Linked DNA regions of Homo sapiens: region 2 is linked to region 1. Evidence: fine-mapped expression QTL. A gene starts in region 1. The other region holds a variant in brackets. All regions are shown on one strand. Distances are from middle to middle.

Region 1 (15,720 bases):
CTGTATTGCTGCTTACCTTCAAAGGGAACTGGAAAGGCACCTGAGCTTCACTTAAGATCAGACCATTCTGTATAAATTTTAGGTTACTGCCAATCAGAGTACACAATTCATTTTCTCATGGACCTGAACCTTTGGACTTGCTTTAAGTAGAGGATAAAAAAGGAAGGTCAGATAAAAAAGGAAGGCCAGCTATAGCTTTTGTTTTTCACCTGCTGTTGAATCTACTGCTTTGGTTGGTGCTCACTTTCAATTCTGAATTTCCTAACAACATGCTATATACCACAAAATGCCATCTTTTGGTCAATGCCTTCCCCACAGGACAGTGGTATTAGGAGTAAAACGTTCAGCAGGAAAATGGCTAAGTATAATGTAGAATGGTTTTAATATGCTTAAAGAGAAAGGATGATTTCGGGCCATAAACAAAACGGCAAGTTCTATTCCACTTCAAAACCCGTCTGTAAGCCTTCCTACTCATCTTTCTTTCTTCCTTTACATCACCAAAGTACTTACCACTCACCTTCAAGAAACCCTCTTTAGTTCTACCCTAGTTTTGTCTTGCTTTGTAAATTCCAGCTCGGAACTTAAAATAGACAGTGTAACACAAAATAACACTATGAAATCACTAAGAATAGTCAGGACATCTGCTTTACAACTTTAGCTTTCTCATCACGCTCATGTTTTGGGACAAATACCCTTACACCTTTGCATTCTCCCCTATCATCAATAAAATGGGGGAATAAAAATGAACCTATTTACCTCATGGAACTACTACATATAACACAAGAACAGACCTGAAGTCCAAAGTAGGAAGCAAATGAAGACTATTGCCTTACCAGCTAGCTACCTGTAAACTCAATGATTCCACTTTGTTTTAGGGGCTAGCAAACAAGATGCGCATGTTTTCACATTTATTTTTGTCTAACTTGCTCAAGACCTCTTAATCAAGTACGTATCTTTCCACGATCTCTGCTCCATTACCTGCGAAAGAAACGAAGACTAAGTTGCTCTCCAGGGATGCTGGGAAATAATGGAATATATAACATGGTTTATGAGTGTTAAAAAGCTGATATAGAAGCCAGACAATACCTTTCAAAAAAACTGGCTTCTATGAAGCATGCTAGCCCTGCTGAAAAATCAACCTATACGAATCATACAAAGCTTCACCTTGCTTCTTCAAAGCCCTATATGTGACTTAGGAAAAGCGCACTGGGTATCTCTACGAATTGAAGTATCAAGTGGGTTTACGGAGAAGCAGAGAGTTCAGAATAGAAGGAAAAAACTAGATGAAAATTTAAATTGCTTCTGAGCCTTCATTTTGAAACTGTAGCCAGGAAACAAAGGCAACGAGTCCAATACCATTCCTCACCTCTAGAAAACAAGAGCAAAGAACAAAAATATGGAAATGTTAATCATGGACCAACTGAATGAAATATTAAGAGGATGACCAATGGGAGGAAGCATGGAAGCATACTTTCCTGGGGAAGGCTGACTGTGCTGAAGAGTCAGGGAGTTTATAAAAGCCCATTATTACATCACTTAGTAAGTTTTTTTTTAACCTTTAGGTTTTAATTCAGCCAAAGAAGGGCTGAGTTCCTCACTCTCCTACTTTGTCAAAAGACCTGAGAAAAACCAACTATAAATAAATAACCTTTGGGCTCCAAGTCATACACACTTTGAGTCTCTAATTTCAAATTTCTCTAGGCATAAAGTATCCTGAGCACAGATCCTTGTGGGAAAAGTTGCTACGATCGATCTTAAGTGGTCTGCTGTCTGACTTAGCAATATTTGTCAAATCACATTCATTAATATTTTAGTTTACTATTTATGGCTAGAAGAGAGAGAATGGCTGCTGAGGAGAGTATTAGGCCAAAGGAGACTTCATGGGAAGTCTTCTGGGAGTTAGAGGTCCGAGAACTCAGTGCCTTAACGATGAGTTTGCTGAGCGTGAAGTATACCATCACAAGATTGCTTCTCAATTCCAAGACCTGGCGTTTGTTATTTTACTTCTGTGGTTTAAAATTACAAAGGAGCGGGAGGAAGACTGGCCCAGGAAAAGTGTTCCACTAAATAGGCCCCCAGAATTAATAGTTACATTATTTACTGTTCTACCAGCTGCTAAAATTTCAGATGCTGGGGGTGAGAAAAAGCAAGTTATTTAGAATTCAGAATTTATTGGCTATGTGACCACAGGCAATGCTCCTCAAATGTCACCGGGCCTCAGGTTCCTCTTCTACAAAATGGGGACAAAACATCTACCTCCCAGGTTGGTGTGAAGACTGAGATGATATATGTCCAGCAGTACAGCAGTCTCCCCTTATCTGTGGGGGATATGTTCCAAGACACCCAGTGGATAAATAAAAGTGTGGATAGCACTGAACTGTAGCAAAGAAACACCAAGGTCACTTTTTTTACTTAAAGGAATCACTTCATGGGTTCTCTTTGGCATATCCAAATTGCCAGCATCATTACTCCTGTACTTTGGAGCCATTATTAAGTAAAATAAGGGTAACTTGAACACAAGCACTACAATGCTGTGACAGTCAATCTGATAACCTAGACAGCTATTAAGCGACTAACAGAGGGTAGCGTACACACTGTAGATATGCTAGACAAAAAGATGATTCATGTCCTGGGCGGGACAGCGCAAGATTTCATTATGCTACTCAGAATGGTGCACAATTTAAAATTAATGGATTGTTTATTTCTGGGATTTTCCATTTAATATTTTCAGACCATGGTTCACTGCTCACTGCAGGTAACTGAAACTGCAGAAAGCAAAACCACAGATAAGGGGGGACTACTGTACAGCAAAGTTTCTCAAACGGTGTCTTTTAAGTTATAGATATGCTGAGGTAATGATCCCCATATCCCTTAGGGCAGGCAGCAGGTGGCAGGATCTCTGAGAGGCTAGACCATTTACCCAAATGTGCCATACAAATACAATCATGTTCTGTGTGCCATACGATAAACAAGGTCAAGAATCACAGTGAAGGATGCCTGCACGGTGCTTACTTAATATGTAGTAGTTACTTATTCAATATCTACCCCCACCCCCAATCCTCAAGAGCCCTGGTTTTCTCAGTTGTAAATGAGATCCACTATCTGTCACAGAAATGAAATGAAACCATGTTAAGGCATATAGCACAGTGCCTAGCTCATAGAAGGTAATCAATAAATTAGTTCTTCTCCTAGGTGGAGTCAGAGATCGGACTCTGAAGCTGTGGTTGGGAGAGGTTTTAGGATTGCGGTAATTCCCTGAATCAGGAATTGGTTAGCAGTACAAGGAAAAACAGAACTCCTATAAGTGTCAGACTGCTGTAATGTCTGGAATCCTAGAACAAGCCGGCTGGGTAAGTCCTCAGAGTTACTGCCTGGACAACCCAAGACACTAAAACATAATCAATTCATTCAGACAGGTTTTAAGAGCTATTCTTAAAACCCTTTAGAAAAAATTTTCTTCTATCTTTTCTCTAAGGAAGCTTCTAGAATGTCAATAATCAATCCAGAAAGGGCTTCTGGCAACTGTATTATCTCATCTTCTTTTCTCATTAACAACTTTGGGGTTTTTACTCCTGAATGCACCCTAGGATCCAATTCCCCATTTTTTTCTTTTTTCTTGAGATGGGGTCTCGCTCTGTCACCCAGGCTGGAGTGCAGTGGTGCCACCTCTGCTCACTGCAACCTCCGCCTCCTGGGTTCAAGTGATTCTCCAGCCTCAGCTTCCTGAGTAGCTGGGATTACAGGTGTGCGCCACCACACCTGGCTAATTTTTGTATTTTTAGTAGACATATGTTTTGTCATGTTGGCCAGGCTGGTCTCAAACTCCTGACCTCAAGTGATCCGCCCTCCTTGGCCTCCCAAAGTGCTGGGATTACAGGCGTGAGCCAGGGTGCCTGGCCCCAATTCCCCATTTGGGCATTTATGTCTCTCTCCTACTTATCCCTTCTTATGTCCTGAATTAGAGGAATTACTGAATTCTGCTCACTATAAAGGTTTCTGAGCATTCTCCTTTAAATCTTCTATAAAGCTCCCATCATTCTTTTTGAGCAAAGCCTAAAAAAATAGATCATATTAGGTAAGAGGTGGTCCTATTCTCCACTAAGCCATATATCAAAATATGGAGAACAGAGACCTAAAAGCTGATTTACTCAATGTCACAAAAATGTCAGCTCCTAAAGAAACAAGGAATCATTCTATCTGGCTTCATTAATTTCTTCAATAAACCAATTTACTGAGTTGACTATATACACAATGAGGATGCTGGGGAAACAAAGATGATTAAAGTGATAGACCCAGCTCTTAAGGAGTTATCAGTTTGGTCCAGCACAGCTCTGGGGCTTCAGGACCAAAGTGGTCCCAAGTAGGCCACAGGACAGGTGGCAGTGTGTAATTAACTACAGTGACCTGTAAAAAGACCAACCAGGTCTTCTTACTGAGTTGGACACAACATTCCATTTCTTCTAAATGCTTAAACAATGTCCTAATTCCAAATCACTCCAAACAGCCTGTCTCTCTGAGGACATATGCAATATATTTGGGAATGAGAACAGAGTATCAGCAAGATTTAATTTATTCCTTTTTCAAATTTCTCTTCCCATCATCCTCGCCCACCCCAACTGGCACTGCTTGCTTACTGAGTTTCACTCCCCCCCATGGAACCACAGCTCCCCGCAATATACACTGGCTGTGGCACGGAGCCAGCACACACTTAAATCCAACAGCAATTTGCATCTGACAGAATTTCCTCAATTTTGGACTCCAGACTCCAGCTAAGTTGACAGGCCTAGCTTCTCAGTTATGAAACGGTTCTTGGTGTGTACACTAACGAAAGAATTAAATTAATTTGTCTGATTACTTTTGCTTTGAGGGTCTGGGTAAGAATTTCCAAATGAAAAGGCAATGCTGTTGATCAGACCTGTGCATGAGGTTATTTGCAGTGTTGGGCATAGCTTTTAAGTCAGTCACATTCTCTTAGTTTGTGGGCTGCTGGGAAGACAATTTACCAATAATTATTATTTTGTGACAATCTATGAGTTGTTTCAATAAGCCACTTCCCAGAAGTGTGTAGGAAAAAATTAAAAAGCAATCTGTTTGGAATGAACCTTAGGCTTTGTCAAACTGCCTCCAAATTAAAAGGTTATGATCAAATGTATTCTTAAACAGTTTAGATGACAACACTGCTTTACCCAAAAGAAAGCTGATACTTTTAGTAGGAGGCCACTGGTGAGAAGATCCAGCAGGATGATCTGAGAGGAATCATTAAAAAAAAAAAAAATCAACTTCAAATGGAAAATTAATGCAACTATATTCTGAAGTATATGCCACAGAACTATTTTTAAGACCATCTCATGCTTTCATTTTCAGAAGCTGGAACAGTGCTAATAGAACTTTGCAATAATGGAAATGTTCCATGTCTGTGCTAAATACAACAGCTACCAGCCACATGTGGCAAATGAGCACCAGAAATGTGGCTAGTGTGACCGAGGAACTCAATTTTATTTCAACTTAATTTTTACTTAAATTTAGCCAGCCACTTTGTATGGCTATCTTATTGGACATCACAGAGATGGAAGATGCACTCTGGAAAAGGCTGCTCCGAACTGTAATTTCCCCCATCGGTTTATTCTGAGAAGTGCAAAAAGTAGGGTGGAGCTGACCTCTCCTAGCAGGTTCCCACACCAGCAAAGCCTTTCAAATCTCCAGGGTTTCTCCTCCAAACTACTCCCTTTAATGTCTTTCTCTGATCTCCACCCCAACACCTTTCACCCCTTAGCACCTCCCTAACTTGGCTAATAGGCTCTCAGAGAGGCCCCTTTTTTTCTGTTGCTGCCTGGGCTGAGCACTGGTAGAATCCCATACATGTTTATGATAACCACACTAGGCAAACTCTGCTGTAAGTTCTGGAATAGGCATGCACCTTGCCTTACCTTACTGGAATGTCTGATAATTTACATTTGCTTCATTCGGGCTTCTACTGGGTGATACATCTGTAATCCCAGGAGAGCCCTGCCTACCAGGCACAATATCATGGTCTCTTTTTTTTTAAAGATTTTCAAAGTTTCAAATTTTCAGCAGAATGTTTTGAGCCTGCTTATTGAAAACCACATCTCAAAGGGGGAGATGGGCCAGAATAAAAGCCTAGATTTATACACACATACACCCGCACATGTGCACAAGCATACACACCAGTGCACCCCCTATACAGCTTCCCTACAATGCATATCTTTGTAAAAAATGTCCTGAGGAAAGGAGCAGTGCTGTAATCCCAGCACTTTGGGAGGCCGAGGCGGGCGGGTCACTTGAGGCCAGGAGTTTGAGACCAGCCTGGCCAACATGGTGAAACCCCATCTCTACTAAAAATACAAATATTAGCCAGGTGTGGTAGCACGTGCTTGTAATCCCAGCTACTTGGGAAGCCGAGACATGAGACTCACTTGAGCCTGGGAGGGCGAGGTTGCAGTGAGCAGAGATCGCGCCACTGCATTCCAGCCAGTGAGAGACTCTGTCTCGGAAAAAAAAAAAAAAGTCCTGGAAGTTCTAACTTATGTCTTCCAGACTTGAGGGCCTATTTAATCCCTCCGAAATGGTTAGCTTCTCTTTTTAAGAATAATTTTCTAAAAGAAAAAGAAAGAACTGAAGTTCCGAATAATGGGCCACATTTTGGAATCACAAGTCATTAATACACAAATAGATGAGAATGTACTCCTATGTTAAAAGACATGCCTCTACTTGAAAATACACAGCCATTTATCTTGTAGATCAGCTTATAACCGCCCAGGTCTCATTCTTTGCTAGTCTGGACCTGAGAATGCATTAAGATCAGTTATGAAAATGCAGAAGTTAATTCAACTTCCTCCTATGTGTTACACTGCTCAGAAAAAAGTATACAGCAATCACCCAAAATAAGACTCTGGGCTGATTCATTTGAATATTTAAAATGCAAAGAAACTGGTAAGAGAGGCTAAGACAAGAAAGAAGCAAGTCAGCCTCAAATATAACCAACTGCAGCCCCTGGCAGGAAACAGTACTGCTCACTACACGTATTACTTCAAGGAAAGTAGTGCTTTGTTTTACAGATAAAATCTGTGGCCTTATAAAGGAGACAGGACATACTATATATTCAATTTAAATGGCAGTTAATACTTTCTAATGCCTCCAAGCCACAAGTACATTATGACCACTTAAAAATTCCCCTCTACCAATCTTCTCCCATCTGTGGATCTGCAAGCACTTTCCTATTACTAGTTCCCAGTTCACCAGAAACGGTCTGCACTTATTAACTGTGAAACCCAGATGTGAAGCCCCATGCTCATACATAGGGAAATGAGGCAAAGGGACTGGCCACAGGCCACCAAAAATTAGAACCCAAAATCCTTAGCTCATGTTTTAAATATTATACTAGAAAAGCAAAGCAGCTTTGGAGGAGCAGATTGTCTTCTACTGATTCTTGTGTTTGGCAGAGAGGCTGCCTTGGAAAGATGCCCTAAGCCCATCTTTTAAAAAGTCCAATCGTAAAGACAGGTTATCTAAGAACTTTATAGATTCTGGAGTCTTTGAAGTGTGTAACTGGGCCAGGGCTACCACAGAAGAAATCACAGACCTAGGGTCTTGATGTAAGAATTTACAAGATAACCAGATAAAGGCTAGTGGGTGAGGAGAGAGCATTAGAACCTCAAAGGAGAGATAAGGAAGGGGTGTGGAGCGAGGGACAATTGGCTTTGCTTTAAAAATATGTAACAAAATGGCCCAGTGTCTCTCACAGAAGGGTTCGGGGAAGGGAAACCAGAGATCGCGTTTTTCCGGCTCTAAGACTGGGTCGGCTTTTAGTCTTCTCTTCTGCTCCTTTTAAAGGAGATGGGGGTGGGGAACGAGAATGCTGGTGGCGATGTGGGCCTGCATCTCCTTCCCTCCTCCAGTCCTGGGAATTCCTGAAAACTCCTTCCAACCCAATTCCAAACAGGCTCTCTCTGGGTTCAGAACAATGCCGGGGAATTTCACGCAGGGAAGGGGTCCCCTTCTCGCCCCAGAGGGCAGGGGGCTACTCCGGAGCGAGTTCCGGCTCCAGGGTCCCCCACGTCCCACAGGTCTCCTGCCCTTTGGCACGCACAGCCCTCACCACTCGCTGCTTCCGCATCCCTCCTCTGAGCCTCTCCCCACGCATCTCTGCCCCTCGCCCGGCCGCGCCCAATCGCCTCCCACGTCTACCCCGCTGGGGCAGCCCCTACACCCTGCCAGGCACCCCATTTCTCTCCTCCAGGTCTGGGGGACTGGACAACATTGGGGATTAGCTGGGGTCAACTCTGCTTCCCCCGCCACCCCCGGCCCCGGGCGCGCGCTCACCCGGCGGCCGCGTTCTCGAACTTGAGCGCGAGCGTCTCCTCGATGATGCGGTTGTTCACCTCCAGCAGGATCATGGCGGCGGCTGCCCCCAGGGGAAGGAGAAACAAGGGCCGGTGAGGGTGGGTAAGGGAGGCAAGGACGGAGGGAGCGGCCCTGCTGCCCCCTGAGTGGGGCTGGGTGGGGTAGGAGGTTAGGGGAGAAGGGGAGAGGGGCCGGGGTGGAGGGAAGGGTAAGACGAACGCGCTGGCCCACGCACGCAGACTGTGGAGACACCCACCCACCCAACCGACCTGGCCCCCGAAGCCTGAACCCGCCTGCCGAGCCGCCGCCGCCGCCGCCACTGCCGCTTCACCGACAAGCCCGGTCCCCGCCCAGCCCCCGGCTCTAGCCGGCCACTTCCGCTCTCACACCCACTTCCGCTCGCCGCCTGGACGCGCGGCCCCGCGGCGCCATTTCCGCTTCAACCACTCGTGAACGCGAGCGCAGGCGCGCCGGAGGAAACGGAGGCTGCGCTTGCGTATGTGTGATGCCGCCGCCCCACCGTCTACTTTCCCACCGACCCCGCTTACGTCTACCGCCTACCAGTGCGTCCCCCGCGGAGCTGTCATTCCCCGAGGCTTGCCTGACTGTTCAGCTTCTCTCTCCCGCTTGTCCCAGAGATCCAACTCCATTCTTCCGGTCTTGTCATTTCAGAAACCTCGCAAGAAGCTCGCCCTTGTCGTCTCCCAGCGGGCTTCTTAGCTCCCAGCTTGTTTGATGGGGGTGCCTCTTTTTCTTTCCAGGTATAGCTGTCCAGCGACACCATCATGCATTCATTTCTCCAACAAACATTTTCATGGGCTCTTGCTCTATACTGGGGATGTAGTGGTAAATGAAATGGACGAGGCCCTGCCCTCGTGGAACTTACAGTCTGGCAAAGGAAACAGACAATAAAATTCTCAGTTGTCTAAGGAGGCAGAGATGCATGGGGAGAGGATCAGAGTAGGGATGCGGAAGCAGCGAGTGGTCAGGAGTGTGCGTGCCAAAAGGCAGGAGACCTGTGGGACGTGGGGGCAGCTGGGGCCGGAACTTGCGCTGGAGGAACACCCCTTGCCTGCTGGGGCGAGAAGAGGACCCTTTCCTTGGGTGAAATTCCCCATATTGTTAAAAGGACAATTAAAGAAATGAAAGAGAGGTCACCTGGGTGAATAGGCAACTTAGATGGGCCTCCCTGTGTTCCTGTCATGCCTCCAATTCTGCGTCCAGGTGTCCGGAACACATTTTTTTCTGCCTTTGAAACCTTCCAGTACCTCTGGCAGAGATATACCATACCCTCCTTGTTACCTGCGTGCGGAATCTTAACTCATCGTTGTGCTACATCTGCACCTTCTGCCTTTGTGCCTTGTTTTGTGTTTTCCCTCCTCCGGGGAGAATATAATAAACTTAGCTGAGTCCGTTCTACATACAAGGAAATAATTTATTTTCTGCTATGTGTTTGGGGATGGGGATAAAAAAATGAACAAGAAACTAGCTCCTATCATTAAGGCACAGATAGCCCTTTGAAACATTACTTAACGGGCTATGGATAAGCTTCAGGATATTGCTGATCCCCTAAAATTATACGCTAACTTAAATTTTTTTTTTTTTGAGACAGAGTCTTGCACTCTTGCCCAGGCTGGAGTGCAATGGCATGATCTCGGCTCACTGCAACCTCTGCCTCCCCGGTTCAAGCGATTCTCCTGCCTCAGCCTCCCAAATAGCTGGGATTAAAGGTGCCTGCCACCATGCCCTTTTAATGTTTTGTATTTTTAGTAGAGACGGGGTTTCACTATGTTGGTCAGGCTGGTCTCGAACTCCTGACATCATGATCCTCCTGCCTCGACCTCCCAAAGTGCTGGGATTACAGGCGTGAGCCACCATGCCCGGCCTTTTTTTTTTTTTTTTTTTAATTTGAGATGGTGTCTCACTCTTGTCACCCAAGCTGGAGTGACGTTGCTATCTCTGCTCACTGCCCGCCTCCCGAGCTCAGGTGATCCTCCTGCCTCGGCCTGCCAAATAGCTGGGACTATAGACATGCACCACCAAGCTGGGCTAATTTCTGTATATTTTGTAGAGACGGGGTTTGGCCGTATTGGGCACGCTGGTCTCAAACTCCTGGGTTCAAGTGATCCACCTGCCTTAGCCTCCTAAAGTGCTGGGATTACAGGCGTGAGCCACCATGCCCGACCGATAAGCTAGCTTTGTAACATTAATGACTATTGAACTAAAATAATGTTTATAAATTGTTTAAAATATGTATGCTTATAATACTAAAAGGCTTGTAATGAAAAAAGCAGTTCCCTGTCCTACTCTTTGGAGGCAATATGCTCAACTCTTTCACAAATTCATCCTGATATTTACCTTCATAATCCCTTTCTTTCTTTCTTTCTTTCTTTCTTTCTTTCTTTCTTTCTTTCTTTCTCTCTCTGTCTTTTTCTTTCTTTCTTTCTTTCTGATAGGGTTTCACTTTGTTACTTAGGCTGGTGTGCAGTGGCACACTCTTGGCTCACTGAAGCCCCGATTTCCCTGGGCCCAAGCAATCCTCCGGCCTCAGACCCCAACTAGCTGGGACTACAGGTGGCCACCAATATGTCCAGCTAATTTTTGTATTTTTAGTAGAGACAGGGTTTCACCGTGTTGCTTCGGCTGGCCTCGAACCCCTGAACTCAAGCGATCCGCCTGCCTTAGCCTCCTAAAGTGCTAGGATTACAAGTGTGAGTCACCGTGCCCGGCCTACCTTCATGTTTCTAAGTAAATGTTTATACCATTATTTTTTGGTTTGTGAATTTTTAGCATTATGTGTTGACTTCCTGACACGGTAGATAAGAACTTGACTCTATCACTTCTGCTTCCCACCATATATAGCTGCGTAATAACTTTTGGTAAAACCAATAATCTGCACCTAGCTGTATTAAAATTATTATGTATGCAAATATTGTTTACTGATGAGCCAAGAAATGCACTATAATCATGACTTCTAGTTTACATGGCCCTTCATTTTTCTTAGGGTTAATTATTGCCTTTTTTCTCTCATCTGTCTGATTTTCTGTAAACAGTATTTACAGTTGGTTTTTCCCCTCAAATGCTCTAAGACTATCAAAAAGTCTAGCAATAATGTTTTCCATATACTCAATATATAAGTTCCACTTTTTCTTTGGAGTTTTTGTCCCAGAGCCTTCCTTCCTCTTATTTCAATCTGGACTGGCTGCTCGCTAGACTTGCTGTACAGTTGTCATTCTGGAATTTTCCTTCATTGTTGTTCTGGGGTGGTTTTGCCCATTTCCTGGATCCCATGTCTTCCTCTTGGTTTACTTCCTTGTTTTGCTAAAGCATCTCCTCTAATAACTTCCTAAGAAAGGGAGATGGGGGATATATGTTGTTAGAATCTTTGCATATTTGAAAATATGTTACTTCTATTTAACACTTGATGTGTTGTTGGGCTAGATATTCAAGTTTGAAAATAATTTTCCCTTTTTTTTTGAAGGTATACTACATTTTCTTTTTTATTTATTTATTTTTTTATTATTATTATACTTTAAGATTTAGGGTACATGTGCACAATGTGCAGGTTAGTTACATATGTATACATATGCCATGCTGGTGTGCTGCACCCATTAACTCGTCATTTAGCATTAGGTATATCTCCTAATGCTATCCCTCCCCCCTCCCCCCACCCCACAACAGTCCCCAGAGTGTGATGTTCCCCTTCCTGTGTCCATGTGTTCTCACTGTTCAATTCCCATCTATGAGTGAGAACATGCAGTGTTTGTTCTTTTGTCCTTGTGATAGTTTACTGAGAATGATGATTTCCAATTTCATCCATGTCCCTACAAAGGACACGAACTCATCATTTTTTATGGCTGCATAGTATTCCATGGTATATATGTGCCACATTTTCTTAATCCAGTCTATCATTGTTGGACATTTGGGTTGGTTCCAAGTCTTTGCTATTGTGAATAGTGCCGCGATAAACATGTGTGCATGTGTCTTTATAGCAGCATGATTTATAGTCCTTTGGGTATATACCCAGTAATGGGATGGCTGGGTCAAGTGGTATTTCTAGTTCTAGATCCCTGAGGAATCGCCACACTGACTTCCACAATGGTTGGACTAGTTTATAGTCCCACCAACAGCGTAAAAGTGTTCCTATTTCTCCACGTCCTCTCTAGCACCTGTTGTTTCCTGACTTTTTAATGATGGTATACTACATTTTCTTACACCTTCTAGGGTTGCTATTAAAAAAGTATAATTCCTATTCATGTTTCTGATCCTTTTGTCTGTTACATCTCCCCCATCTGTGGAAGCCTTAGGATTCTCTCTTTAACTTGTTGGTTAGAAATTTTAGAATGATTTGCTTTATTGTACCACTTTCTTAATTTGTTGTACTGAGCACTGATTCAAAATAGAAATTCATAGAGCTGAGCATGGTGGCTCATGCCTGTAATCCCAGTACTTTGGGAGGATAAGCAGGGAAGATTGCTTGAGCCCAGGAGTTTTAGGCTGCAGTGAGCTAGGATCATGACACTGCACTCTAGCCTTTACGACAGAGTCTTAAAGAAAAAACACAAAAAAAGAACCTTCTTTTCATCTTGCAAAACTGAACTCTAAACCAACCCATTGTTTGTTTTTTGTTTTTCTATTTTTGTGGAATATCTTCTTGCATTATCTTCAGCCATTTTAACTTTTTGTTTTGTTTTGTTTTGTTTTTGACACAGGGTATCGCTCTGTTGCCCAGGCTAGAGTGCAGTGGGCAACCTCAGCTCACTGCAGCCTCAACCTCCTGGGCTCAAGCGAACCTCCCACCTCAGCCTCCCAAGTAGCTGGGACCACAGGCTTGTGCCACCACATCTGGCTAATTTTTTGTAGAGATGAGGTCTTCCTATGTTGCCCAAGGCTGAACTTTCAGTTTTCTTTTTTTTCTTTCTTTCTTTTTTTTTTTTTTTGAGATGGAGTTTCGCTCCTGTTGCCCAGGCTGGAGTGCAATGGCGCGATCTCGGCTCACCGCAACCTCCGCCTCCCAGGTTCAAGCAATTCTCCTGCCTCAGCCTCCCGAATAGCTGGGATTATAGGCATGCATCACCATGCCCGGCTAATTTTTGTATTTTTAGTAGAGATGGGGTTTCTCCATGTTGAGGCTGGTCTCGAACTCCTGACCTCAGGTGATCCGCCCTCCTCGGCCTCCCAGAGTGCTGGGATTACAGGCATGAGCCACCGCGCCCGGCCTCAGTTTTCTTATTTTTAATTCCCAAGACCTTTTTTTCCTGCTGACTGTCTCTTTTCCATAATATTCTATCCTGGTTTTATGGACAGGCATAAGTTTTCCTGTCTGTGAGGATATTAGTGAATTTGTTTTTAGTTTTCCTTCTCTCCACTTTGTCTCTGTTTCCTTGGGTCCTTTTTAATGCTAATTTATTTTGGTTACTCTCATGCTAATGGCCATCTCAAACTTCTGTCTACTTTAGCAATCTATTCATATTTAAGGATGAGACACTAAAAAGCTGAGTGGAGACTCTAAGTGTTTGGGCAAGATGAGTTGACTAGCTCCTTGGACCAGCAGCATTGACATCATCTGGGAGCTCATTGGAAATGGAGAACCCCAGGTTCCACTGTAACCTACAGATTTAGAATCTGCATTTTAACAATATCACCAGGTGATTCAAGTGCACATTACGTTTTGAGAAGCACTAGGTTGACCGTAAGTTGCACAGATGATGTGCCAGATGTCGAATGTCAATATTGGGAGGTCTTCTCTCCAGGGAAGAATCCTCCAGTTGTGTTTGGAAAGTGGCTGTTCTTAAATAGCCAGAAATTTGCTGCATTCAATCTTGAAGATAGAGGCTAGAGGTAATTTTGGGGTTGGAATGGCTGTCTGGCCATTCTCCAGTTAGTCCTCCAGATCCACTCTTCATCCTTTTTCACCCCTATATCAACTGGACTCCCTTATGCCTGGGTGTTTGGTTGGCCAATAAGGAGCCCCAGCAGGAGGAAGGGGAACAGAAGTAGTAGTAGTAGGAGGAGGAGGCAAAAGAGTAATATCAGGCTATTTAATCTTGGGCTTCCTTCATCTTTTGAGGTCGCCTCAGGCTGGCTGTGTTCATCAACCAAATGTCACTGCCCCTTTCAAGGTGGCCACCTCAGCACAACTCTTTCCTTCCTTCCTGGTCCTGATCCCTCTCCTCAACCCTTTGGGCTTAGGGATAGTATCAGCTTGGCTGCTATTAGTCCTGGGTTAATGCATTCCCTCTTCTGGCTCCCCTACATCCACACTTTTGTAAATAATCCTTCTTAAATACATTCTTCTCAAATTATCCTATCTTGAGGGTGCCTTCTGTTTCCTATGGGATAAAGACTAATGTGGTGGGGTGGGGGAAGAGTGATGTCATGGAAGATAGCAGAGTAGAATTGATCCCTTCACTGAAACCACTATTGAGCTGGCAAGAACTGTCAGAACCAACTATTTGGAGCTCCAGACTCTAGTGAAGCACTTGCAGCATTGAAGGGAGTACTTGATTAAGAAAGAGGCTGGTGAATTTTGGTGAATTCTTCCCAGCAGCATCCAGTTGTGGAGATGGCAGTCTGTATCCCTGATGTGCTTGGCGATGTGAGGGTGGGCTATAGGGACCTTGTCCTCCAAAAATCAGGCTTGTGTATTTTGATATGCCTTAGTTTGCTAAGGGGCCACTGCTAAGGTTGGTTATTGTTTCAGCCTCCATGGGCTCAGCTGAAATGGTTTTCTTATTGGTGGAGGGGATTTAAAAAGCTCTTTTTTTTTCTTTTCTTTTTTCTTTCTTTTTTTTTGTTAAAGATGAGGTCTTGGCCGGGCACGGTGGCTTACACCTATAATCCCAGCACTTTGGGAGGCTGAGGCGGGCAGATCGCTTGATGTCAGGGGTTCGAGACCAGCCTGGTCAACATGGTGAAACCCTGTCTCTACTAAAAATGAAAAAAATTAGCCAGGCTTGGTTATGTGCCTGTAATCCCAGCTACTCGGGAGGCTGAGGCTAGGGGAATTGCTTGAACCTGGAAGGTGGAGGGTGCAGTGAGCCAAGATCATGCCACTGTGCTCCAGCCTGGGTGACAGAGCGAGACTCTTATCTCAAAAAGAAAAAAAAAAAGATGAAGTCTTGCTATGTTGCTCAGGCTAGACTCAAACTCCTGGGCTCAAGCAATCCTCCTGCCTCAGCCTCCTGAGTGATGGAAGGGATTTAAAGAGACAAAACAGCCTTTTCTTTTCTTTTTTGGACCCAGGCATTTAAGGAAATCTCTGTTAGGTCACTGGCTGACTGCAGAAATTATGAGTCTTTAGTGACTACACATGCCAAGGAATATAGTCTTTGCAACAGAGTTAGGAAAAGGCACTAA
Region 2 (15,720 bases), 44 kb before region 1:
AAAGCGGGGCTGCTGCTGACACCCCCCCACTGGAGACCCTAAGCTTCCATGGTGATGAAGAGATTATCGAGGTGGTAGAACTTGATCCCGGTCCGCCGGACCCAGGTGAGAACTGCCGCTCCTCAGGCCATGGGACAGGAGACGCTCACCCCTGGCCTCTGACTCCTGCTTTTCCCCGCTCCCCTCCACACCCGACTGGTCATTCCTACCGATATCCCTCTTCCCCTCCTCCCCCACTCCCACCCTCACACTTAGTTCTCAGGCCTGGCTGGGGTGGGGGTTCCCTGACGCCTCCTCTGGCCCTTCCCCTCACACACCCCCTTCCCATCATCCCCTTGGCCCTCCCTTACCGCACGGTCTCTGGCCAGCCGTGGCCTCCCGTCCTGTGTCCCGCGCGCCCCCGCGGACCCCGGTGTGTCTGACTCCACCTTCCCTTCTCGCCACATGACCCGCCCCAGCCTCAGGCCTCCTCATGCTTCTCTCCGTACCTCTTACCGCCTCCCGAGCCCCATCTTCTAACCCTCTCCCCAAAGCAGATGACCTGGCCCAGGAGATGGAAGATGTGGACTTTGAGGAAGAAGAGGAGGAAGAGGGCAACGAAGAGGGCTGGGTTCTAGAACCCCAGGAAGGGGTGGTCGGCAGCATGGAGGGCCCCGACGATAGCGAGGTCACCTTTGCATTGCACTCAGGTAGGTCTTTGAGGCGATCCACCTCAAATCAGTTTAGGTGGGCGTGTAAGCATTAAACATCAGCCATGGACAGAACGTTATGGGGGACACAGAGATGGGCAAGATGCTGGCCTTGCGCTGGAGGAGCCCACAGGTGGGAAAGTGTGGCAGAATGGATGATTGCTTGGCTTCTGGCATCAGTCGAGACACCCTCTACTTTGCCAGTTAACCTTGATTAACCTCTTAGTTTTCTTTTAAAAAGTTATCTTTGGCCGGGCGTGGTGGCTCACTCCTGAAATCCCAGCACTTTAGGAGGCTGAGGCAGGTGGATCACTTGAGGTCAGGAGTTCGAGACCAGCCTGGCCAACATGGCAAAACCCAGTCTCTACTAAAAATACAAAAATTTGGCTGGGCATGGTGGCTCACGCCTGTAATCCCAGCACTTTAGGAGGCCCAGGCAGGCGGATCACAAGGTCGGGAGTTCCAGACCAGCCTGGCCAATATGGTGAAACCCCGTCTCTACTAAAAATACAAAAATTAGCTGGGCGTGGTAGCGGGCGCCTGTAGTCCCAGCTCCTCGGGAGGTTGAGGCAGGAGAATTGCTTGAACCCGGGAGGCGGAGGTTGCAGTGGACCAAGACTGCGCCATTGCACTCCAGCCTGGGCAACAGAATGAGAGTCTGTCTCCAAAAAAAAAAAAAAAAAAAAAGTTATCTTTGATAAAAGTTAATAAAAGTAGTGAGTATAAAATTAGAGATAATTGGCCAGGTGCGGTGGCTCATGCCTGTAATCACAGCACTTTGGAAGGCCAAGGCGGGTGGATCACCTGAGGTCGGGAGTTCAAGACCAGCCTGGCCGACATGGTGAAACCTCATCTCTACTAAAAATAAAAAAAAAATTAGCTGGGTGTGGTGGCATGTGCCTGTAATCCCAGCTACTCCGGAGGCTGAGGAAGGAGAATCACTTGAACCTGGGAGGCAGAGGTTGCATTGAGCTGAGATTGTGCCACTGCGCTTCGGCCTGGGCGACAGAGCAAGATTCCATCTCAAAAAAATAAAATAAAATGAGAGATAATTATATCTTTTTGAGCATATTTTATATAACTTTCTCAAGTGCTAGTTCTTAGTAAGAAACTGTTGCCAGGCACGGTGGCTCATGCCTGTAATCCCAGCACTTTGGGAGGCCGAGGCGGGTGGATCAGAAGGTTAGGAGTTCGAGACCAGCCTGACCAACATGATGAAACCCCATCTCTACTAAAAATACAAAAATTAGCTGGTTGTGGTGGCGGGCGCCTGTAATCCCAGCTACTCAGGGGGCTGAGGCAGGAGAATTGCTTGAACCTGGGAGGTGGAGGTTGCAGTGAGCTGAGATTGTGCCACTGCACTCCAGCCTGGGCGACAGAGCAAGACTCTGTCTCAAAAAACAAAAAACAAAAAACAAAAAACCCTTAACGTGATGCTCTCCTCGCTCTGTACCCAACCCCGGTGGCATCCCATGCTGACAACTGTAAGCCCTGCACCTGTCCCCACCTCTTGTCCATGGCATTGGTGTTGGGTGGTGACGGGAGTCACACAGTGAGGGGATCTACTCTGGCAAATAGGGAGCTTGGCAAATATGGGAAGGATCTAACAACCCAATTCTTGAAACTTAGAAGAACTTGGATGTACCTGTGTTTTCCAGGAGGAAAGACACGCTTTGGGTGAAAGGGGGTGGGTTTCCTGAAGATTGTGAAGGACAGAGCCCTAGGTGGGAGCTCTGTCCCCTTACCCATGGAATATCTCTTGGGACAGCATCTGTGTTTTGTGTGAGCCTGGACCCCAAGACCAATACCTTGGCAGTGACCGGGGGTGAAGATGACAAAGCCTTCGTATGGCGGCTCAGCGATGGGGAGCTGCTCTTTGAGTGTGCAGGTGAGGGGGCTGGGGTAGAGGCCTGGGAGAGGTCATATTCTTTTGGGAGATCTTAGGAGGCTGACCTGCAGAGGTTGTGCATCCAACAGCCACTTAGTGACATCTCTTTTGTGCCAGCTCTGTGCTGGGCCCCAGGGACACGGGGCGAATACTAGTGTGTTTTGGGCACAGAGGCAGGAGGCACTAATTGGCCAAGGGAATCCAGGAAAGGCCAGAGAAGGCCACATTGGTATAGGAGCAGGCGGGCAGAGGTGTAGAGTGGACAGAAGGGGGAAGGCATAGGAGGCTGGGACTTGGTCTGGTTGAGTGAGGGCCAGCAGTGTCTCCCAGCAGACATGGGAGTATTGGTTCCTAGAGTGGTGGTGAGTTCCAGCACCTGTTCTGCTCAGTCCCGCCCCTCTTTTTTTCCTAGCTGGTCCTTTCAGTGGGCCAGATACCAGAATCACATGCCCCCAGCACCAGGTACCCTATTTTTTTCCTCTGTTTTCTGCCCACTTTTCTTTGAAGGCCATAAAGACTCTGTGACTTGTGCTGGTTTCAGCCATGACTCCACTCTAGTGGCCACAGGGGACATGAGTGGCCTCTTGAAAGTGTGGCAGGTGGACACTAAGGAGGAGGTCTGGTCCTTTGAAGCGGGAGACCTGGAGGTAAGATCATCAGAGCGGGAGTCAGCTCTGTGGGGCCTTGGGTTGTTGGGGGTGCAAGCTTGGGAGGCCAGTTCTGCCTTTATTGCGCCAAGCCAGCTCTGAGCCAATGCGCCCCAAGGCACAGGAAGAATATCTACCTGCTACCTGGAAAGTCCCCGCGGAACCCCAGAGGCAGGAAACCTTGGGTGGAGCTCATGGGGCAGGCTTCTAGGTGGGATGGGGTGACGGGCCTCCCTGCTGCCCCTTCCTCCCTGTCCAGTGGATGGAGTGGCATCCTCGGGCACCTGTCCTGTTGGCGGGCACAGCTGACGGCAACACCTGGATGTGGAAAGTCCCGAATGGTGACTGCAAGACCTTCCAGGGTCCCAACTGCCCAGCCACCTGTGGCCGAGTCCTCCCTGATGGTGAGAGCACCTCCCTTGAGTGACCTTTCCTGGGTGCAGAGGCCGAATCCCGGGATATACACCTCCCAGAGCAGCCTTCTGGGTCACAGCCGGCAAAATCTGAGGCCTGCTGTTTGCAGTGCTGACCTCCTGGGCCCCAAAGTTCACAGCGCCTCCTTCCTGCTCTGAACTCACCTGTGATTCCTGGGGCAGTGTCTGGGCCCTTCCACTCTTCTTTCCTCTCCCTCTCCCCATTCCCTTGCTTAGTGTATGTGAGCGTGCCCTCTGCCCTCTCTTCATCTGTGCCTCTCTTCAGGGAAGAGAGCTGTGGTAGGCTATGAAGATGGGACCATCAGGATTTGGGACCTGAAGCAGGGAAGCCCT[A/G]TCCATGTACTGAAAGGTATCAGAGGTGGGGGAAGTGTTAGCCTGGGCCTTTGTAGGGAGGGGCTGAGAACCTGGGGCAGGACTCAGAGGGGAGGTAGGACGAAGCCTGAGCTGCCTCCCTGCTCTATGCTAGGGACTGAGGGTCACCAGGGCCCACTCACCTGTGTTGCTGCCAACCAGGATGGCAGCTTGATCCTAACTGGCTCTGTGGACTGCCAGGCCAAGCTGGTCAGTGCCACCACCGGCAAGGTGAGTGGACCTGGAGCCCGGCTGGGGCCTCCGCTTTCCCGACTCCTCTCCTTCCTTCCTGGGTCTTCACTGTCTCCTCTCCCCACCGTCTTTCTCTCCATCAAGCACCCGGATTCCGTGTCCTCCTCTGATCCTCTCTGGCTTTCAGGTGGTGGGTGTTTTTAGACCTGAGACTGTGGCCTCCCAGCCCAGCCTGGGAGAAGGGGAGGAGAGTGAGTCCAACTCGGTGGAGTCCTTGGGCTTCTGCAGTGTGTGAGTGAGGATGGGGAAAGGGGTTTGTGGGAGGGGCCTGGGCTGGGGGCCCGGGAGGACGGCAGGGCGTGTGAGTCCAGGCCCTCATGAGTCTTCATGGTACGCTCCTCTGGCCAGGATGCCCCTGGCAGCTGTTGGCTACCTGGATGGGACCTTGGCCATCTATGACCTGGCTACGCAGACTCTTAGGCATCAGTGTCAGCACCAGGTATGGGCAGCTGGAGCTGGGGTCCCTGTGGGCTGTGTCCATAGTGGTGGGGAAGCCCAGGCCTCCAGGAGCATCTACCCCAGATCTGGCTCCTGCCTGGCCCTTGTGTGTGGCTGTCCCTCTTTGAGAATTGGGAGCAGATGGCTCTCAGCTCTCCTGCCAACCTCCGCCCTGCCTCTGTCATTCCTCGGGGCAGTCGGGCATCGTGCAGCTGCTGTGGGAGGCAGGCACTGCCGTGGTATATACCTGCAGCCTGGATGGCATCGTGCGCCTCTGGGACGCCCGGACCGGCCGCCTGCTTACTGACTACCGGGGCCACACGGCTGAGATCCTGGACTTTGCCCTCAGCAAGTAAGTGAATTGGCCAAGGGCTGGGATCTTTGTGTATTTGGAAGGTGGCAGTAGTATGTAGGGGACACAGGATCCTTGGGGTGTGGGAAGGGATTCCTAAGGCAGGAATGCAGAGAAGCCTGAGGGTTCACAGCCCAGCCCCCATTCCAGTGGCTGACAGTGACCCTCCGGGGCCCCACGTCTCAGTCATGAGGGAGAGGCTGAGACTGATTTTCCCCATCGGAGTCAGCTCTGCTTCTCCCGTGCTGGGGGCTTCCTCTAATCCCCTCCATGCTGGCTGCAGAGATGTCGGCCCAGTGCTAGGCACTAGGGCCCTAGAACTGAGGGTGTGCTGGAGGAGCCCACCCTAGGGCCCCTAGGTGGTGGGCTTGGGTCCCCCAGTCTCTGCAATCACATGCTTTCTGTTTACAGAGATGCCTCCCTGGTGGTGACCACGTCAGGAGACCACAAAGCGAAAGTATTTTGTGTCCAAAGGCCTGACCGTTAATGGCTGCAGCCCCTGCCTGTGTGTCTGGTGTTGAGGGGACGAAGGGACCCCTGCCCCTGTCTGCCAGCAGAGGCAGTAGGGCACAGAGGGAAGAGGAGGGTGGGGCCCTGGATGACTTTCCAGCCTCTTCAACTGACTTGCTCCCCTCTCCTTTTCTTCTCTTTAGAGACCCAGCCCAGGGCCCTCCCACCCTTGTCCAGACCTGGTGGGCCCTTCAGAGGGAGGGGTGGACCTGTTTCTCTTTCACTTTCATTTGCTGGTGTGAGCCATGGGGTGTGTATTTGTATGTGGGGAGTAGGTGTTTGAGGTTCCCGTTCTTTCCCTTCCCAAGTCTCTGGGGGTGGAAAGGAGGAAGAGATACTAGTTAAAGATTTTAAAAATGTAAATAAAATATACTTCCCAGAGACAGAGTCTGTGTGGATTTTGTGATGGCTGGACCCTAGGAGGAGCTAGCGAGGGCCCCGTCAGGGCAAGGCTGTCCCGCAGAATCGGCTGGATGTTGAGATGTGCCAGCTCCCCATCTCCAGGGGTGGTCTGTGCGCACGACACTTCTTGCCTGCCTGGAGTCGGACTCTGCCTTAATCCACGCGTATGTCTGTAGGTTCTTTCTATTGTTGGTGTGTTGAGCCATTTCCTCCTGCCTCGCCCTGAGATATGGAATGAGATAATCATAAACGGCCAGAGGAGCTTTATTCAGTCAGTGCGGGGTCAAACAGAGGCAGGGTCTCTGATCCAGAGAAGTGGGGCCCGGTAGAGACAGGCTGGATGGCTGAGCTGGACGGATGCTCTGGTAGGAGTCAGCAGAGGCCCTTCCTTTAGTTCAAGTCCAGGTCGACACTGCTTTGGCTGCTTGGGTGGTAGGCAATGCTGGGGCCGGGACTGTCCCGGGAGGCTCTTCCCCACAGCCCCTGCAGGCACCTTTGGGCGGCTGCCCTCCAGGGGGCTGTGTAGCGCTGATCGCCCAGCCCCATGGCTACGGGCACTGCCGCTGCACTGGCACTTCCTAGGGAGAGGAGGGACAACAGTGTCCCAGGCCCCAGTGGCGGGCGCTGCTCATAGGCCAGGACTGAGAGGAGCAGTGTGGCCACGTAGGGCCCCCAGCACAGCCCGAAGAGCAGCATGGCTCCAGCCTGTGCCCTTGCCTGCCTCCAGGTAAGGGCCCGGGCCAGGGCGGAGGGCTCATCGCGGCACACTGCCCGCTCCAGCCGGCAGATGTCCTGCAGCTGGCGGTGGGCAGTGGCCAGCACGCGGACAGAGAGGAAGGCAGCAGCACCCACGGCGGGCAGCAGGAGCCCATAGACTTCGAGGTACAGGTAGGGGGCTGGGAAGATAGCCTGGGAGCTGCAGTTGGCACCAGGGGTCCAGTGGTTCCACCCCAGAGCGGGCAGACTGGCAAAGAGCAGGGGACCAGCCCAGGTGAGGAGCAGGGCCAGCCGAATGCTCCCAGGGGGCTGGAGTGGCCTCAGGACTGCCATGTAGCGCTCCCCGTGCACCAGCAAGAGGTTGGCAAGCAGGGAGAGGAAGGAGAAGTTGGGAGCCAAGTAGACGAGGAGGCAGGACCAGTAACCCCGGCGACTCTGGTTCCACAGCCCTGGCAATGTGGGCAATGCCAGACCCGTGAGCAGCCCAGCCAGCAGTAGGCTCAGGAAGAAGCAGCCAGCAGGTGGGCTGCGCAGGCGGCGGTCCCAGGCGATGCCCAGGGCTAGGAGCAGGTTCGCGGTGATGATGAGGCTTGCCAGGGCCAGGGAGAGCCCCAAAGCCCCCTTGGGAATGGGGCTGGGCACCTCGCCAGTGCTGTTGGGCGTCATCTTGGTCCTGGGGACAGGGGAGTCCTGGAGCGGCAGCCGGCATGCCTGCAGGATGGGGTGGCCAGAGTTAGGATGGGGCTGCAGGTCGTGTCCTCCTGGCAGGGCAGCATGTTAATCCAGGGGCGCAGACCCGCAGGCTGTGGGCTGTATCATGTTCGCTGATACACAGAATTTTTCAATTAATTGCCAATTAAACATTTATATAAAAAACTATCTTTGGTTTCTATTGAAAATTCAGGTCTGGCAACACATATGTCCTGTGTGGTAGCAACCAGCCGGAGCTCACTGCTGGCTGCCCTTCGGACAGTCCCCACCCAGCCAGCTTTATCCATTTCTGGTATCTGCCTTTTCTGGGCAGCTGTGTTGAGGTCTCTTGTTTAGACTGAAAGGCGGGCCCATCCAGCCCCAAAGCATTTTGTGTATCCCTGCCTCCACCGGGGAGGCCTCTAAATGAGAGAATGGACCAGGGCTGGCTGGTGTGTAGTGGTCTTCCAGCCAGCCATTAGGTGACAGGCTCCAGCGGGCCAGGTCTCGGGCACCCTGCACCCTTCCCCCCATCTGTCCTTGTAGCCATCACAGCTCAGTGAGCAGCCTCCGGGTAGGACTTCCAGCCCATAAACTTGACTCGTCTTTGCTCCACACTAGCAACAGGGTCCTTCCTGGGAGCTGGAGGGAGGAGAGAAGCAGCTGGAGGGCACGTGTGGCAGTGAACGTGGAGATGCCAGCAGCAAGGAGAGGGACTCCCCCACACCCCCAGGCCTGAGGCTGAGCCCAGAGGAGAGGGAAGAGGAGTCTGGGCAGAGTCTGGCTTCTCTGTGGCTCTCATCTGTCCCTGTCCTTCCCGTCATTCCCTGGTCTCAGTCCTCCAGTGTCATGGCTCTGCTGCCACATCCTGGGGACAGGGGGAGGGGTCCTGGGTCCTGTGGGAACTCCTGCTTCTGTCAACAGGGGAGCAGCTGCTGTTGCTAGGATCCAAGTCAATAAGGAAAGGATTCATACCTCTCCCCTCCTCCAGGACAGGGGATCAGGGCCCCATGGCTGCCCTGAGCTGAGAGGAAGGAAGATGCTCCCCTTCCTTCCCAGGTTCCCCCAGCACCCTGAGCCTGGGCCTCCAAGGCCTTATGCCCCCTTTCCCCTCCCCTAAGCATGTTTTCTCTTTCTCAATCTCTTCCAGTGCCCTCCACCCAGGATGTCTTTTCCTCTCTAGAGGCCTTGCAGTTTCTGTTCCCTTTCCCAGGGCATCATCAACTCTCTTAAGTCCCGTGAGACTCAGGGTCCATTACCCCAAACCTGGCCTGAGCTGGAGCTCCCAGCCCTAATCGGAATGATTCCCCCCAACCCACCTCCACTAGAACAGCGACAAAGGCAGGGAGCAGCCCCCAGGGGTGATTTCCCAGCAGGGTGCAGGCTGTACCACCTGCACACCCCCGAGGGTCTGGTGGCTTGGGCTGGGTGTAGTAGCCTCTCCAGGATCTGGGGTTTGGGGGTTTGGGGGAGTAGCTACTCACATGGCTGTTGGGAGCAGGTATTGCCTGCCCAGCCTGGGCCTTCCTGAGTGTCAGGGAGTTGCTGCAGCCAGCCCTGCAGCGGTTTGGACCATGTCTGGTGTCCTGGCTGAAGAGCACAAGTGGACCAAGTGCATGGTGTCTCCACCCAGTGGGGACAGCGGGGCCAGGCTCTCCTACCCAGGCTCTGCCCGTCTGGGTTCTCAGAGGGATAGAGAAATGAGGCTGGCAGGACTCAGCCCTGGCCCCGCCTCTGGGAGGGTGGGACCTGACATATTCCAAACTGCAGCAACTGGGAGGCCTGCCTCCCCCTCCCACCCAGTTCCCCTCTCCCCCTGCCACCTAGGTGGCAGTTTCCCTACTCCAGCTCGGAGTAATCTGAGAAATGCATTCCAGTTAATGAATAATAATGATTGACTTACCCCTCCCGACTTCCCGCCTCAGCTGATGCATTTACATTTAAGCCCCTGGACTGGCCAGCCAGCTGACAGCACACCAGGCTCCCTCCACACTTCCGTGTGTGATGGTGGCAGTGGCAGGTGTTTGGGGCCTGAGGATCTTCACTCCCCCATCCCATCACCTGATGGGCCTTTCAGTTTCTAAGGCCAGACTTGCCTTCCTGAATCTGGGGTCATTCCACACTTTTCTCAACTGCTTTCTGAGTCAAGTTCTGAACTATGAGGGACAAATGGCTCTGGGGATGTGACCATGGGTAAGGTACTACTGGGCCTCGGTTTTTGCCTGTGTTAAAATGGGAACAAGAAAAACCACCTCTAATTAAGGTCGTGGTGGGGAATATCACAGGATAACACATATGGCGGCATATACCCCAGTGCATGGCCCTTGATGGGTGGGGGTTTGCCCCAACAAATGGCTCCCTCTCTTTCCTCCCCCATGATGAAGAGGCATGAGCTGGCGCTGGAATCAGAGCTGTCTGGATCCTTTTTTAAAAAAGCCAGTGAACTTGGGCAAATGACTAAAGTTCCCTTGCCTTAGTTTCCTCATCTGTCAAATGGGGCCCATAGTTGTACTCACCTATCGTGAGACTAAATGAAGTCCCGTGTGATGAGGACTCAGATCAACACTTGGCCCTTCAGCACTCCGCGACAGGCAGCGATCGCTGGGAACATTATTAGGATTTCTGCCTTTCTCTGCACCTGGCCCCTCTAAGACAGATCTGCTGAGAGGGGCGCATGGGGAGCTTGGGAAAAGCAAGAGGGGAGTGACACTCTTGCTGCACAGGGAAGCTGAGGAAACCAGATACATTGAGAGGGAAGGGCAAGTTCAAGGCTGGGAAGCCAGAAGTGGTGCTTTGATTTCCACCTTGTATCAAGTGCGGCTTTGGAGTGAGGGGGAGGAGAGAAGCCCAGCCACACTCCCTTAAGGCCTGAAATGGGAGGGAACAGGCGGAAATTGCAGCAGGAAAGCTGGGACTGGGGGTGAGACATTAGGAAACACTTGCTGGCTGAAGAGCGCAAGTAAATGGAGCAAAGGGACTCTGGTGCTCTCCGGGAGAGCTGGGCCTGAAGGGCTGGAAGCCCGTGGAGTGTGGCTGTGCCAGCTCTGCACAGCCAGTCAGGGATCCTGGAGATCAGGGACTTCTGTTGGGACAAAAAGTGGGAAGAGGAAAGCATCCAGCCTCAAGTCCATCCTCGAGGGAGCTGGTGGGTCGGAAGGACGCAGGGTTCCAGGGCCGGTCCTCAGAACCACGGGATCTGGTCGGGCAGAAGTCACAGGCTCTGGGAGAGTTCAGCCTGGGGCCTGGACAGAAGTGGGTGTGGGACCCTTCTGATATGTGACTTCCAGGAATAAACAGACCTCCTGTTCCCAGCCCCAGCCTGCTCCCTGTGGGATCCAGGATGTCTGTTTCTTCTCTGCTGCTCTGTCTAAACACTGTGTGTGGGATGTGTGTGAAGGGGGACAGATTAGGTAGTGGCAGCCAGGGAGCCTGGGCTGTCTCCTGCTCAGCCTCATTTCTCCCTTCCTAGATCATCTAGTTCCTGTCTGTTCCATCAAGCCCTGGGGCTGACTCACCCCCTAGCTTCTCCCTTCAGCCACGGAGGGCTCTGGTGCAAGCCGTCTTCAGACGCTCCATCCAGCTGACTGTGCCCGGACCCCATTCTCCTTTCCTCAGGCAGAGCCTGAATGGGGGTGACCAATTCAGACTCTGGCATGGAATCCTCCTGTGCCTCCTTTGTCCGCTTCCATTCTCTTAGCTATCTGAATTTCTCTCTGTTGACCCACAATGTCTGGGACTGGGTGAGTGTCATGCTGGCTGCGGGTACCAGCTCTGGACCAATGGAGGCAGCAGGGACGGGGTTTGCTGGACCCTGGTTGGCCTCCCTGAGCCGCTGTTCAACACTTCACACTCAATGCCTGTAATCCTAGCACTTTAAGAGGCTGAGGCCTGGGCAACGTGGTGAGACTCCGTCTCTACAAAAAATAAAGATTAGCTGGGCACAGTGGTACATGTTGTGTGGTTCCAGCTACTCAGGAGGCTGAGGTGTGAAGATTGCTCGAGTCCAGGAGGTTGAGGCTGCCGTGAGCCTTCATGGCGCCACTGCACTGCAGCCTGGGCGACAGAGTGAGACCCTGCCTCAAAATAAAGATGATTAAAAAAAATCAGAGCCAGGCGCGGTGGTTCATCCTTGTAATCCCAGCACTTTGGGAGGCCGAGGTGGACAGATCACCTGAAGTCAGGAGTTTGAGAGCAGTCTGGCCAACATGGTGAAACCCCATCTCTACTAAAAATACAAAAATTAGCCAGGTGTGGTGGTGAGCACCTGTAATCCTAGCTGCTCAGGAGGCTGAGGCAGGAGAATCGCTTGAATCCAGGAGGGGGAGGTTGCAGTGAGCCGAGATTGCGCCACTGCACAACAGAGCAAGTCTCCAATAATAAAAAAAAAAAATCGCCTAACCTTTTAATTCGCTCATCTGTTAAAAAAAAAAAAAAAAAAGGTTAGGGTGGGCTGGGCACAGTGGCTCACGCCTGTTTTCCCAGCACTTTGGGAGGCCAAGGTGGGTGGATCACCTGTCAGGAGTTCGAGACCAGCCTGGCCAATATGGAAAAACCCTGCCTCTACTAAAAATACAAAATTAGCTGGGTGTGGCGGTGCAGGCCTGTGGTCCCAGGTACTCCGGAGGCTGAGGCAGGAGAATTGCTTGAACCCGGGAAGCGGAGGTTGCAGTGAGCCAAGATCGCACCACTGCACTCCAGCCTGGGCGAAGAGTGAGACTCTGTCTCAAAACCAACCAACCAACCAACCAACCAACCAACCAACCAAAAACCAAAAAGAACCAACACCCCCCGCCCACTGAAATGGCAGTGCTTTTAGCAACCCCCAGTAGGGGGCAGCACTGCTTGAACTCAAAATCGCCACCAGAGTAGACCCAGGTTTCGGTCGAGCACTCATCAGTACTACTCCAAATGAGGGTAACCTAACGGCAACCAACTCCAAGTATCAGCTCCCCTCAAGGAGGCTGAGGCAGCAGCTAGGGCTATTTCCTTTTCTTGATTTCAATTCCCCCTCCAAGTCCACCCTTCCACTTCCTGTTAGAGTCTTAGCGTCTTTCCTGCCAAGCTCCTTATCCTTAGCTTGCAGTTTGCCCCAGGTTCCACTTTTTCCAGACATGGAGATTCTTACCTGCCTGGCCTCGGCAGTAAGGGCCATTTAAGCAGGGGAAAATACCAAAATACCAACTACCTTGGGGAAAGCCTGGGAAACCCCAAGCACCGAATAAGGGTTGGCTTCTGTGGGACTTTGCTGGGGCAACAGCCTGTCACTTCTGATCCCCTTGAGTGTATAAAGGGAACTAAGATTCATTGACATTATAATTACAGGCATCATAATGCTTATGATGTAACAGACATTTATTCTCTTTTCCTTTTACAAATCCTCAGGTAGGTGGCATTATGTCCAATTTAAATGAGGCTACCAGGGCTCAGATTAAGAAATTTGCTGTCACATAGCTATTAGATGGCGGCACCTGGATTCAAACTGTTCCTCTACAGCCCATATCCAAGGACGCCTACACTTACCAGGTGTGAACCCTTGGGGCACTGGCTTCCTGAGACTAGGAAGAAACAACTAGATCCCTTTTTTCCAGCCCACACCCTCAGTGTGCTTGACCCTCATCCTGAGACATTCCTCCTGCGGTCCTAAGGCCTCGACTGGTCACGATGGGCTGCTTCATCTGTGACGAGGGTCTTTGAGGCTAGATCCATACTAACGCCAAGTGTGTCCTTGTTAAGAGAAGAGTCAATCTGGATACGGGTTTACACCAGTATGGATTTTTCTTTTTTCTGGGACAGGGTCTCACTCTGTTGCCCAGGCTGGAGTGGAGTGGCACGACACAGCTCATTGCAGCCTTGACCTTCAGGGCTCAAGCAATCCTCCTGCCTCAGCCTCTTGAGTAGCTGGGACCACAGGCATGCACCACCACATCCAGCCGATTTTTATTTTTTGTAGAGGCAGGGTCTTGCCATGTTGTCCAGGCTGCACTACACATTTATTTATTTTTGAGACAGAGTTTCGCTCTTGTTGTCCAGGCTGGAGTGCAATGGCGTATCTTGGCTCACTGCAACCTCCGCCTCCTGGGTTCAAGTGATTCTCCTGCCTCCGCCTCCCGAGTAGCTGGGATTACAGGCACCCGCCACCATGCCCAGCTAATTTTTTTTTAGTAGAGATGGGGTTTCACCATGTTGGCCAGGCTGGTCTCAAACTCCTGACCTCAGGTGATCCACCCGCATTGGCCTCCCAAAGTGCTGGGATTACAGGCGTGAGCCACCGTGCCCAGCCAGATTTATTTTTATAGAGATGGAGAAGGAGTCTCACCGTTACCCAGGCTGGTCTCAAACTCCCGGGATCAAGCAATCCTCCTTCCTCATCCTCACAAAGTGCTACGATTACAGGTGTGAGCCACTGTGCTCAGCCTGCACTATGGATTTTTAATGTTGACAGTGTCTTGGAACTAGTTACTTCCTTAGGATTTACTGCTGTAGAAAATATTTATGCCTTTTCATTTTTCTCCTAACTCCATATCTTCTAAGCAACCTTGGTTCTGTCACCTACAGTACTTACCAGAAATCGGATTCCTACTACTGGCAAAAGAGTACAGTGAGCTCCAACATTAGTTATGTTCTACTAAGGAAGAAAGCAAAAACTCAGCTGGACATAGTGGCAGGTGCCTGTAGTTCCAGCTACTCCGGAGGTCAGGAGCTTGAGTACAGCCTCGGCAACACAGTGAGACCCTGTCTCTAAAAACTAAAATTAAAACAAAAAAAGAGCAAAAACTGCTTCTAGTCAAAATTACACTTGAAAACCCCTTAAATAACTCATGGGGTAGAGAATGCATATGTTGCTGTCAATATATCCAATTAATCTAGGTTTTCCAAGTACCAGAAGTAAGTGGTCAGGGGCACCCTGAGCAGCCAATTAGAAATCAGAGTACCTTGAGCTCTCTAGCAGCCCATTTTAGTGAAATAAAATCAAGTCTGATGACTGAACGACCTGTGGTTTTCAAAATTCTCCACTGTGACTCACAGTCAAGAGACATTTCTACAATCCAGTCATGATGTGCATATGTAACTAAAATACGTTTCCACATCAACACTTACCCTTAACAGATGTAATGCACTCTGATACTATTCAATTGCTTAAAAATGCTGGCGTCACACAAAGCTACACGTATGATAAAAATGCACAGATGTACATCTCATACAGTGCACGTAAATCCGGCCAAATCTGAAGGTGTGTGGACTATACTAATGATTTTTTCTTGGCTGTGATGTTATACAACAATTATACAAGATGTTAGCATGGTGGGGGAACCAAGTGGAAGGTATACAGGATCTCTCTGTATTGTTTCTTACAACCGTATTTAAATCTACAGTTATCTCAAAATCAAAAGTTTAGAAAACAAAAATGCTTGTTGTGATATAGTCACACCACAATTAATGGGTCCCAAGCCAGTATGAAACACTGCCATAGATGGAAGGCAGAAACCATTAGAATGACCATCAGACCGTTGCAGGTGCCCCTAAAATTCTCCTCTTAATTCCTTACACCAAGCAAACTTTCTGAAGCAATTTCATTTCAGGGACCAGAGTCCTGCTGGGGGACAGCTGCTCTACTAGGCTCTGTACTGTTTTTGACAACTGCTCTCCCTGAGAGCAGTCTTTTGGGCTGCCATGTGAGAAAGACAAACTGTGGCCAATTAGTCTGCATCAGACCCACACCTGAATACTCATCAATGTCCTGCAGGACCACACACTAAGGAACACATTTTGGGAAATTCCACACATTATTCACAATAAAAAGATAAACCAGAAAACCCTTTAATTTCTCTGTCATTGACCAGGGAGCTTCAGGAGCAGCCACAGAGTCTCAGGGACCAAGCTTTATAAGGAAGCATGTAAGTTTGTATTAATAGCTCGCTGGGTTCCATAGCTCATGCCTATAATCCCAGCACTTTGAGAGGCTGAAGCAAGCAAACTGCCTGAGTCCAGGAGTTTGAGACCAGCCTGGGCAAGATGGCGAAACCTCATCTCTACTAAAAATAAAAAAAATTAGCCAGGCATAGTGGTATGCGCCTGTAATCCCAGCTATTTGGGAGGCTGAGGTGGGATGATCACCCGAGCCCAGGAGGTAATGACCCTGTCTCTCAGGGGGAAAAAAAAAAAGTTTAAATATAGCTCACTGGCCAGCCATTCTCTCCTCTAGGGAAGGTGAGGATCTAAACCTGATGGGCTCCTGAAACTAGGGCTTCCCAGCTTAGGTTTGCAGGTTCAAGGGTAGTATAGGTCTATCCTTCTTCCTTCCTTCTCTTCTCACTTTGGACTCGCAGTCCAGAAACCCAGCAAATTCTCA

What was found. PIP is the estimated chance that this variant, and not a neighbour inherited with it, causes the effect.
Region 2: its variant is fine-mapped to the expression of ARPC2 in whole blood (TOPMed, PIP above 0.99).

The regions. Positions count from the first base shown.
Region 1 is chr2:218,210,165-218,225,884 of GRCh38, reverse strand. It overlaps ARPC2 (actin related protein 2/3 complex subunit 2), which reads right to left and starts at 8,696. Exons shown (of 11, transcript NM_152862.3): 1 at 8,631-8,696; 2 at 8,341-8,422. The coding sequence starts at 8,414. It overlaps LOC101928487 (a long non-coding RNA gene), which reads left to right and starts at 8,699. Exons shown (of 2, transcript XR_923908.2): 1 at 8,699-8,857; 2 at 9,034-9,784. RefSeq lists silencers at 3,016-3,065, 8,513-8,562 and an enhancer at 8,084-8,687.
Region 2 is chr2:218,254,351-218,270,070 of GRCh38, reverse strand. It overlaps GPBAR1 (G protein-coupled bile acid receptor 1), which reads right to left and starts at 9,056. Exons shown (of 2, transcript NM_170699.3): 1 at 8,855-9,056; 2 at 6,210-7,391. The coding sequence starts at 7,346. The coding sequence ends at 6,354. It overlaps AAMP (angio associated migratory cell protein), which reads left to right. Exons shown (of 11, transcript NM_001087.5): 1 at 1-105; 2 at 537-689; 3 at 2,458-2,577; 4 at 3,085-3,224; 5 at 3,484-3,628; 6 at 3,924-4,007; 7 at 4,125-4,240; 8 at 4,389-4,492; 9 at 4,610-4,700; 10 at 4,897-5,051; 11 at 5,463-5,942. The coding sequence ends at 5,538. RefSeq lists enhancers at 1-187, 756-1,641, 5,701-5,880, 7,804-8,609. The variant A/G (reference allele first, on the strand shown) is at 3,992.